Regions from separate parts of the Homo sapiens genome. Here regions 2, 3 and 4 are each linked to region 1. The links come from fine-mapping of genetic effects on gene expression. A gene starts in region 1. Each other region holds a variant in brackets. All regions are shown on one strand. Distances are between the middles of the regions. Region 1 holds the start of CYP4F22 (cytochrome P450 family 4 subfamily F member 22). Region 2 overlaps CYP4F22 (cytochrome P450 family 4 subfamily F member 22). Region 3 overlaps CYP4F22 (cytochrome P450 family 4 subfamily F member 22). Region 4 has its middle 4.5 kb from the start of PGLYRP2.

Evidence for each region. PIP is the estimated chance that this variant, and not a neighbour inherited with it, causes the effect.
Region 2: its variant is the best candidate, but not a certain one, in a credible set for the expression of CYP4F22 in whole blood (TOPMed, PIP 0.77).
Region 3: its variant is the best candidate, but not a certain one, in a credible set for the expression of CYP4F22 in esophagus mucosa (GTEx, PIP 0.83).
Region 4: its variant is the best candidate, but not a certain one, in a credible set for the expression of CYP4F22 in monocytes (TOPMed, PIP 0.53).

The regions. Positions count from the first base shown.
Region 1 is chr19:15,507,420-15,510,121 of GRCh38, forward strand. It overlaps CYP4F22 (cytochrome P450 family 4 subfamily F member 22), which reads left to right and starts at 1,106. Exons shown (of 14, transcript NM_173483.4): 1 at 1,106-1,164. RefSeq lists an enhancer at 750-1,250.
Region 2 is chr19:15,537,633-15,540,334 of GRCh38, forward strand. CYP4F22 (cytochrome P450 family 4 subfamily F member 22) reads left to right here. Exons shown (of 14, transcript NM_173483.4): 6 at 1-30; 7 at 240-361. Among named protein-coding and RNA genes, the nearest start is that of CYP4F22, 30 kb to the left of the region's middle. RefSeq lists a silencer at 1,273-1,473. The variant G/A (reference allele first, on the strand shown) is at 1,722.
Region 3 is chr19:15,528,888-15,531,589 of GRCh38, forward strand. It overlaps CYP4F22 (cytochrome P450 family 4 subfamily F member 22), which reads left to right. Exons shown (of 14, transcript NM_173483.4): 4 at 822-966. Among named protein-coding and RNA genes, the nearest start is that of CYP4F22, 22 kb to the left of the region's middle. The variant G/A (reference allele first, on the strand shown) is at 1,274.
Region 4 is chr19:15,482,660-15,485,288 of GRCh38, forward strand. No RefSeq gene overlaps it. Among named protein-coding and RNA genes, the nearest start is that of PGLYRP2, 4.5 kb to the left of the region's middle. The variant A/AG (reference allele first, on the strand shown) is at 1,330.

The DNA of each region.
Region 1 (2,702 bases):
ACACCCTCCAGTTTCTCTGTGCTTGAGCTCTACCCCCTCTCCTGCACTTGTTGAAATCCAACCTCTCCATGCAGTCCCAGCTCAAGTGTCACATCCTCCACGTCGCCTTCCCTGACCTCATGTCTGCCTCCTCCAAGCAGCAAAACTTCAATTACTTGTGTCTCCTCTTCTTCACCAGGAGACATGCCCCACACCTCCCACGCCCTCTTTCCAAGGGCCCAGCACCAAATGAGAGCGTATTCTTAGAAAAAAGAGGGATAAGGAAGTCTTCTAAGTTTACCACCTGCTGGGGCAAGTGGAGATTCTTGTCTTCTCATCTGTCTGCCCACGTGCTAAGGTCAGCCACACATCCACCCACCGACTCCGGAGGACAGACACATCCAGAGGCGGAGCTGACTCTGTCTCCACACATCTGGAGTAGACGGGTTGGCCAAGGACAACATCCTGGTCAGAGGGTCAAGGTGTCTGGCAGTGGGTGGGGAGGAGTGGCGGAGGGCGGGTTGGCGGGGAGCAGAACCAGTCTGGTGCTGCTTGTTGAGGTTGGAGGTCTTCCTGGAGGAAGAGGCTGCAGAGCCTCCAGGGGTGGGTGCCGGGGAAGCTTAGGCCCAGGATCCAGAGAGAGGGGAAGGGCTGGTTCCCAAGGGCTGGTGGAGCCAGAGAATTCCTGAGGGCCCCAGAGGAGGCTTCTCGGGGGGGTCAGTGGGGCCCCAGGGGGTGATGGTTTAGAGATCGCTGTCCAAGCTTGGGAGCAAACCTGGAAGTAAGGGCCATGGGGGGTGTTGGTGTGGGAGGAGTGTGGTCCAGAGCGGGACTTGGGCGCTAATGCGGCCCAGCAGTGGCAGGAGGGCGGGGAGCCTGATGGTTTGGGACTTCTAGGTGTCCAAGTCTCTGTCTCTCTTCATCTCTCCATCTCAGTCTCAGTCTCTCTCTCTTTCCATCGCTCTCCACCCCTCCACACGCCTATTTCTTGTTCTCTCCTTTTCTAGGGGGCAGCGCTGGAGTCCCCGCCCAGAACCCTGCGGGAGCCCGGGGCGGGATGTCCGGGGGCGGACCCCTCGGCACGGCCGGGCGGGGTTAAAGGGTTGGGCCGTGGGACGGCGCGGTCAGATCCCAGGTAGTGGCGCCGGTGGATCCGGATCGAGGGCAGGAGGCTGAGACCCGCGGGTGAGTGCGCGCGTGGTGAGGGCTGTAACCTGAGCGCGGCCGCGGCGCTGCGCTGGAACCCGAGGCTCGCGCGGTTCGGTGCTGGCGGGGCAAGGGCGAAGGTCTGCGCGCGGCGGCGGGCGGGGCGCAGCCGGCCACGGGGACCCCCCCAGGACCCAGGACGGGGCTGCATGCCCGGGGCACTCGTGGGGAGAGGGGCACGTGGGTGTGTCCCCGACGTTTGCTGCATTTGTGAGTTGTTTTCTTTTTTTTTTTTTCTGTGTGCGCCTCGGAGTCCTAGGCGCATCCTTTTCTCTGGGTATCTGTGATGGGCAGGGGGCCTCCAAAAGACCCCTCTGGTAGTCAGGACATCCCAGATGGGTTCAAGCCCCGCCCTGGGACGCCTCTTTGGGGCTGAATGGGGATTCGCCCTGAGATTTCACCACTGCACGTTGTCTTGACGGGGAGGTTGTAGTACATTCAACCGATGGGGTTAGGCTTGTGGTTCAACTGCTATCAGGAACCCTCTGCCCATCCATGCCAGACGCAGAGCCCCTCTATGAAAAGACGGTGTTCTTCTGGCCCCGAGAGTTGGCTCTGAGGGTTGTGTGAGGTCCTGGGGTTGGTCCCAGGTGATCTTCGTCTGATAGATGCTGGAAGGAAGATGTTTTCTGGCCTCCCAGGGGCCTGGCCCAGCCTGGGTATGCAAGTTGGCCGAGGCTGGCCACCTGGGGAGTCGCAGGCTGGAGAGGCCTAGGCTCAGGGCATCTCTCCTGGTTCATCTGCCCGCTCACAGCTCATTCATGCACTCATTGTGAGTCTCACCGCCCTGTAGGCAAAGGAGATGGCCAGGGCTGGCTGCGTACCCGAAATTCCTCCTACCCTGTGCCCCTTGCTCCACCCCTTATTTCTAGGTCCTGGAGCTGTGCCCAGCCAGGGCTGGCAGCATCAAACTCCTTCTTGTGTAACTCCAAACCCCAAAGAGAAGGAACCTCCCCAAATCTTCCCTACCACCCTCATTTTACAGGCACGGAAACTGAGGGCCAGAGAGAAGAAGCCTGTGCCTGTGGATACCCAGTGCCCAGTGGGAGAGCTGGGATTTGAAAAAACAAGCCCTGTTTGACCCCAAAGCCTCAGTCCACTTTCCGATGTCCCCGGCATCACCAAATGGCCCAGCTTGGGTTTCTGAACAGTAACATTAACTCTGGCCTGGTGTCTGGCGGTGACCCAGGTTGGTATCTGCAGAGGGGCTTGGATGACTTGAGAGGCATTCAGGGAATGGGACCCATCTCTCCTTCCTTCCTTCCTTCCTTCCTTCCTTCCTTCCTTCCTTCCTTCCTTCCTTTCTTTCTTTCCTTCCTTCTTTCTTTCTTTCTTTCTTTCTTTTCTCTGTCTCTCTCTCTTTCTTTCTTTCTTTCTTTTTTTGTTGTTGTTGTTGAGACAGGGTCTCACTTTGTCACCCAGGCAGGAGTGCAGTGGCATAATCATAGCTCACTGCAGCCTCGATCTCCTGGGTTCAAGCAATCCTCCTACCTCAGCCTCCTGAGTATGGAGGACTA
Region 2 (2,702 bases), 30 kb after region 1:
ATCTTCAACCAGAGCGCTGACATTATGCATGTGAGTCCTAAGGCTTTGAGGGAAGAGGGTGTCTTGGGAGTGAGGCTGGTCCAGGCTCCAACTCATGCATGGGCAAGCCATGTGATGTCAGGAGCCCTCACTGACTTTATCTATAAAATGAGCTTGTAGTGAAAACGCAGTCGGGTCCTTGTTAGGCTGACTCCCTCTCTGTGGTTTCCATGCACAGTCACCATGTATCTCTCTTCCAGGCTAAATGGCGGCATCTGGCAGAGGGCTCAGCGGTCTCCCTTGATATGTTTGAGCATATCAGCCTCATGACCCTGGACAGTCTTCAGAAATGTGTCTTCAGCTACAACAGCAACTGCCAAGAGTGAGTGTGACCCTTCTTGGGAAGATGGAGCCAGCTGCTCTAGGAGCAAGATGGTGGCAGGAGAAAGGGAACTCCCAGGCATTAGACAACTCTGGCCTATGGGAGCTCTGCCACGGATGGGCCATGTGCTTCCGGGAAACTGACCATCTCTCTGAGCTTCACTTTTTTTTTTAATCAAAAAAATGGGCATCATAATTCCTTCCCCATAGTCATTGTGTGAGAATTAAATGAGATAATGTGAATCAATGGCTTGGTATAAAGTAGGTGCTTAGTAAATGTTAGTATTTTTTCATTCCACTAGGAAGAGTATGTGGTCTTTGGACAGTGTCCTCCCCACTTTCTGAGGCTCAGTTTCCTTGTTTGTAAAAAAAGGATGACAATCTCTTACTTTCTGAGAGATGCTTTAAGGATAAAATGATGCAGCACTGCCCTGGCACATAGTTGATGCTCAGAGAATATTTGTTGAGTAAATGAATCAAATAACCAATGCCTTGCTTCATTAATTCATTCATTCATCAAATATTCATTGTGCACCTACTACGTGCCTGGCACCATGATATTGCTGCTGAGAACAGGGTGGTGAACAACAGACAGTCACAGTTCTGTGAAGTTTATAGTCTAAGTGGGGACATAAGGAATAAGGGAGATAATTAATGCAAAACTTGCAACACATAGTAGGTCCTCAGTAACAAGCTAATGACTTCGTTACTCTAGGCATTATAGGGGCACGTTCCAGTTGGATAAGGCAGAGATTGTCTTAGAAATTAAATAATTAATTCATCCAAGAAATATTTACTGAGTGCCTAGTAAGTGCCAACCCTGAACTAGGTGCTGGGAACACCATATTCAACAAGAAAGACAAGATGTTGCTTTTCTAGAGCTTCCATTTTAGTAGGAAGACAGGTAATAACCATGAACAAGTAAACAAACAAGAAAACGACAGACTGCAATAAGTGCATGAAAACAAGCCCACTTCAGGACTGAGGACAGCTCCCTTCAAGCCTGCTTCACCTGTTAGTTTTTAAAAAATAATGGCTTTGTTGAGACACAATTCACATACTATACCATTTACTCATTTAAAGAATACACCTGAACTGCTTTTAGTATATTCAGAGTTGTGCAACCATTACTATAATCAATTTTAGAATATTTTCATCAATCCTCCCCCACCCCAAGAAACTTCATACACTTTAGCAACCCGTGCACTTCCCTTTCTCCTTCAAGTCTAGGCAATCACTAATCTATTTTCTATCTCTATAGATTTGCCTGTTATGGATATTTCACACGGATGGAATCATACAGACTTTTGTGTCTGGCTTGTTTCACCCAGCATAATGTTTTAAAGGCTCATCCATATTGT[G/A]GCATGTATCAGTTATGTATTTCTTTTCATTGATGAATAATGTTCCATTTACCACATAATACCACATTTTGTTTATCCAGTCACCCATCGATGGACACTGTTTCCACTTTTCGACCTTTATGAATAATGCTGCTATTAACATTCATGCACAAAGTTTTGTGTGAACATACATTTTTAATTCTTTTGGCTATATACCTAGGAGCAGAATTGCTGGGTCATACGGTAATTCCATTTTAAACATTTTGAGGAACTGCTAAACTTTATTTCAGTGGGTTTCAACATGGTATGAAGTGGTTGTACCATTTTGCTCTCCCAACCAGTGATGTATGAGAGCTCCAGTTTTTCCACATACTCACTAACACTTGCTTTTTTTTGTTGTTGTTGTTTTGTTTGCTTTTTAGAGATAGGATATTGCTCTGTTGCTCAGGCTGGAGTGCAGCCCAACACTTGTTATTATAAGTTTTGATTTTAGTCACCTTAGTGGGGTGAAGTAGTATCTCATTGTGGTTTTGATTTGCATTTCTCTGGTGACCAGTGCTGTTAAGTATCTTTTCACATTCTCATTGGAAATTTCTGTCTTCTTTGGAGAAATGCCTATTCATATCCATTGCCCATTTTAAAATAAGTTTTAAGAATTCTTTATTTATTTTAGGTACCAATCCCTTATCAGATAGACAATTTGCAAATATTTTCTCCCATGCTGAGGAGTGTAACCATTTAGTTTTAGTGATGCTACAATGACTATGCCTATGTTGAAAGTCTTTATCCCTCTTTGGGCCTGTTCAAAAATATACCCGAGACTGGGTGTGGTGGCTCAGACCTGTAACCCAGCACTTTGGGAGGCCAAGGCTGGAGGATCACTTGAGCTCACGAGTTCAAGGCTGCAGTGAGCTATGATTGTGCCACTGTACTGCAGCCTAGGTGACAGAGCAAGACCCTATCTAAAAAAATAAATAAATGAATTTAAAAATAGAGTTAATA
Region 3 (2,702 bases), 21 kb after region 1:
TAGCAAGTACTTGATAAATGCCAACCATGATCATTATTGTGTTTATCATTACTATTTTTATTTTTATTTTTTAAGAGACAGGGTCTTGCTCTGTCACCCAGGTTGGAGTGCAGTGGGGTGATCATAGCTCACTGCAGCCTTGACATCCCAAGCTCAGGTGGTCCTCCTGCCTCAGCCTCATGAGTAGCTGTGACTACAGGCATGTCCCACCAAGCCTGGCTAATTTTATCTTCTTATTTTATTTTATTTTTTTTTTTTGAGGTGGAGTTTTGCTCTTGTCGTCCAGGCTGGAGTGCAATGGCATGATCTCGGCTCACTGCAACCTCTGCCTCCTGGGTTCAAGCGATTCTCCTGTCTCAGTCTCCTGAGTAGCTGGGATTACAGGCGCCCACCACCAAGCCCAGCTAATTTTTGTATTTTTAGTAGAGATGGCCTTTCACCATGTTGTCCAGCCTGGTCTCGAACTCCTGACCTCAGGTGATCTGCTTGCCTTGGCCTCCTGAAGTGCTGGGATTACAGATGTGAGCCACTACACTTGGCTACTATTTTTAGCTATTGAACATCAGCCATGGGTCAGGCCCATGCTGGGGCTCTTGCTTTGTTATTTCATGAATCCTTTCTACTGCCCTCAGAGGGAGAGTTGATTCTCCTCCATTTTTTCAGATGAGGAAATGGAGGCCCAGGGAGGTGCAGCCAACTGCCTGAAATCATAATGTAGCACTATTGGGCTTGTTTTGAGACTACAGGAGGTGGCAGGAGGAAGGCAGTGGGGGAAGCTGGGGCTGGGTACCTCCTCATTGCTCCTCCCTTACCTCTTGCAGTACCTTCCAAATGAGGCGGGCCTTCAAGATGAGAAGAAGGTACTGGACAACATGCACCATGTACTCTTGGTATGGATGGGACCTGTCCTGCCGCTGTTGGTTCTGGTGCACCCTGATTACATCAAACCCCTTTTGGGAGCCTCAGGTACGTGGGCTGGGCCTCCGATCTATGGTTGAGTCCTCAACTCCCAGAGCCTATCTGAGATTCTAGGCAGGTGGGATATCCAGAGGAAGGGTCATTTGAATAGGGCTTTGAAGGATGAATAAGAGTTTGGCAAAGCAAGCATGGCAATCCAGATTGTGAGAACAGTATGGGCAAAGATGTGGCAATGACTAAGAGTTCCAGAAACTTCGAGGGAATGTCCATCCATCTGGCAGTCAGAGCCAGGCACGTTTGGATAGGCAGTTGTTCCTTATGGTTTTGTTAAGTAAGTGTTACTCAATCCCTGGCC[G/A]TGGCACGCCCATCATTTGGTTCTGACATTCCCATTATGGCCAGGACTCTTGGTGACTCAGCCTGCAGCCTGCTGTCATCACTTGGGCTGACTCTGACTGGCAGGGAGGGAGATGTGGAAGAATTCCTTCTTCCTCGTGCAGTCCACACCTATCCCAAGATGTGAGACTTCCAAGTCTGCTTGGCAAGCTCTTGCTCAGCCTTCAACACCCAGCTCCAATGGCCGCCTCCTCCAGGAATCTTTCCCTGGCTTCCCAGACAGACCTATTCTCAGTCCTAACCCTTTGGACCTGGGTATGTCTGTGTCCAGCTCTATCTTCCTCATGAGCGGGACTCTGGATCCTCAGTGTGGCCTTGTGTACCTGGTGTATTAGTCAGTTCTCACGCTGCTATGAAGGACTACCCTAGACTGGGTAATTTATAAAGGAAAGAGGTTTAATTGACTCACAGTTCCGCAGGGCTGGGGAGGCCTCAGAAAACTTACAATCATGGCGGAAGGGGAAGCAAACACGTCCTTCTTCACATGGCAGCAGGAAGGAGAAGTGCCAAGTAAAAGGGGGAAATTCGTTAAATCTCGTGAGAACTCATTCACTATCATGGGAACAGCAACATGGGGGTAACCGCCCCCATGATTCAATTACCCCCCACCGGATCCCTCGCATGACACATAGGGATTATCGGAATTATAATTCAAAATGAAATTTAGATGGGACACAGCCAAACCATATTACCTGGGCACCTCCAGAGGTATCGGGACATCTGAGAGAACTCACTCTCAAATGAACCAATGAGCTCCAGTAGGTCAGGCATGGTGGTTCACATCTGTAATCCCAACACTTTGGGAAGCTGAGGCAGGAGGGTTGCTTGAGGCCAGGAGTTTGAGACTAGCCTGGGCAACACAGCAAGACCCTGTCTCTCGAAAAAAATAAATAATTACCCAGTGGCAGTGATGTGCACCTGTAGTCTCGGCTACTTGGGTGGCTGAGATGGGAGGATCACTTGAGCTCAGGAGTTTAAGACCAGCCTGGGTAATCTAGCAAGACCCCATCTGTACAAAAGCATTTAAAAATATTAGCTGGGTGTTGTGGTGCATGCCTGCAGTCCCAGCTACTCAGGAGGCTGAGGTGAGAGGATTGCTTGAGCCCAGCAGATGGAGGCTGCAGTGAGCTATGATTGCACCACTGCTGTACTCCAGCCTGGGTGACAGAGCAAGGCTTAGTCTCTTAAAAAAAAAAAAAAAGTGGGAGATTCCAGGAATTTTAGGATCTCTGTCCCAGCTTTGCCTCTACAAACACGCATCTGGGGACCATCTCCAGGGCTGCCACCCAGGAGCTGTGAAAGAAGCTGCCATCTTCCCCTTCCACAGCTATTCCCTCTCAATGCCTTGTTGTCTCCCGTTATTACATTTGTGAAGGGATGACGATCCCTGT
Region 4 (2,629 bases), 25 kb before region 1:
TTTCTTTCTTTCTCTTTCTTCTCTTTCTTTCTCTTTTTCTCTTTCTTTCTGGCAGAGTCTCATTCTGTCCCCCAGGCTGGAGTACAGTGGCGTAATCTCAGCTCACTGCAGCTTCCATCTCCTGGGTTCAAGCGATTCTCCTGCCTCAGCCTCCTGAGTAGCTGGGATTACAGGTACCTGCCACTATGCCCGGATAATTTTTGTATTTTTAGTAGAGATGGGGTTTCACCATGTTGGGCAGGCTGATCTCGAACTCCTGACCTCAGGTGATCCATCCACCTCAGCCTCCCAAAGTGCTGGGATTACAGGCATGAGCCACTGCACCTGGCTCGTGGATTTTTTCCAATAAGTTACATGGAGTGTGTCTGCCTCTCCTCTCTCCCCTTCCACCTCCTCCACCTCTTCCACCTCTGCCACCCCTCAGACAGCAAGACCAACCCCTTCCCTTCCTCCCCCTCAGCCTATTCAACATGAAGACGATGAAGATGAAGACCTTTATGATGACACACTTCTACTTAATGAATAGTAAACATACTTCCTCTTCCATACGATTTTCTTAGTAACTCTTCTTTTTTCCCAGGTTCAGGTGATTCCCTCGCCTCAGCCTCCAGAGTAGCTGGGACTACAGGCATGCACCACCAAGGCTAGCTAAGTTTTCTATTTTTAGTGGAGATGGAGTTTTACCACATTGGCTAAACTGGTCTTGAACTCATGACCCCAGGTAATCCACCTGCCTTGGCCTCCCAAAGTGTTGGGATGACAGGCGTGAGCCACTGCACCCCACCTGATTTCCCTTTAAAGCTTGGAGTTGGGGCAGAGACTGCCTTGTTTTAAGCCAGGGGCATGTCATGGATGGCAGGCTCTTTCCTTAGGGTCTATGTAGGATTTGTGACCTTCTGGGGCAGGACCCTTCCTCCAGGGAGCCTCTGTGGTTACCCCTTGCTCCCCTTACTCCTCCCAGCTCCCTGACCTGCTGTTCTTCCCTTCAACCTAGGCTGTGCTTACAGTGCTGGAAGGTTCTTTGTCCAGTTTTGTCTCCCCAAATCTAGGAGATGCTGAGTTTTTGGGGCTGTCCAGAAGTGCCCAGCACAGACTCAAGACCAAGTGAGTGTCAGGGAGGGATTGCTAAATGCACAAAAAGCCTGATGAATGATGTGGGGCCAGTTTGGGGTCAGGATCTGAAACACACACATGTACACCCACATTCAGGCACTCACACACCAATGCATCAGGGCTGGGCTGGGCCTGGGAGGCAGAAAGAAGGCTGGAAATCCCACAATGAATCACCTCTACCCCAGGTTTCCTTCAACCTCAGGAGGCCCACTTGTC[A/AG]GATAAATCAAGGCCCCTTGGCCGGGTGCGGTGGCTCACGCCTGTAATCCCAGCACTTTGGGAGGCCAAGGCGGGCAGATCACCTGAGGTCAGGAGTTCAAGACCAGCCTGACCAATATGATGAAACCCCGTCTCTACTAAAAATACAAAAATTAGCTGGTGTGGTGGCATGCACCTGTAATCCCAGCTACTCAGGAGGCTGAGACAGGAGAATTGCTTGAACCCGGGAGGCAGAGGTTGCGGTGAGCTGAGATCGCGCCATTGCACTCCATCCTGGGCAACAAAAGCAAAACTCTGTCTCAAAAAAAAAAAAAAAAAAAAAAATCAAGGCCCCTCCAGGCTGCAGAGAGACTAGAGGGGTCACAAGAGTAGCCACTGATTATGGAGCAGGGCCGGCTCTCATGAGTTGTAGCATTGGCACAGATAGGCAGAGCCTCTGGCCCTAGATCTTAAGCAAGGCTGGGATGAGGCCAGAGGAGAAGGAACTTGGGGCAGGGCTGGGCTTGGGCTCAACGTCAGAGTCGACAGCGTTCACTATGGTGGCACTAATGATGCTAATAATGAAGACCCCGCTCGCTACTACTGTTACAGGAATGGGGTCCCGATCCAGACCCCAAGAGAGGGTTCTTGGATCTCGCGCAAGAAAGAATTCAGGGTGAGTCCACAGAGTAAAGTGAAAGCAAGTTTATTAGGAAAGTGAAGGAATAAAGAATGACTGCTCCATAGGCAGAGCAGCCCTGATAGCTGCTGGCTGCCTTTTTTTTTTTTCAGACGGAGTTTTGCTCTTGTTGACCAAGCTGAAGTGCAATGACATGATCTCGGCTCACTGCAACCTCTGCCTCCTGGGTTCAAGCGATTCTCCTGACTCAGCCTCCTGAGTAGCTGGGATTACAGGCATGTGCCACCACACCTGGCTATTTTTTTTTTTTTTGAGACGGAGTCTCGCTCTGTCGTCCAGGCTGGAGTGCAGTGGCGCCATCTCCACTCACTGCAAGCTCCGCCTCCCTGGTTCATGCCATGCTCTTGCCTCAGCCTCCCGAGTAGCTGGGACTACAGGCGCCCACCACTATACCCGGCTAATTTTTTGTATTTTTTTTTTTTTTTTTTTTTTTAGTAAAGACAGGGTTTCACCGTGTTAGCCAGGATGGTCTCAATCTCCTGACCTCGTGATCCACTCGACTCGGCCTCCCAAAGTGCTGGGATTACAGGCGTGAGCCACTGTGCCTGGCCTAATTTTTTGTATTTTTAGTAGAGATAGGGATTCACCATGTTGGCCAGGCTGGTGTCAAACTCCTGACCT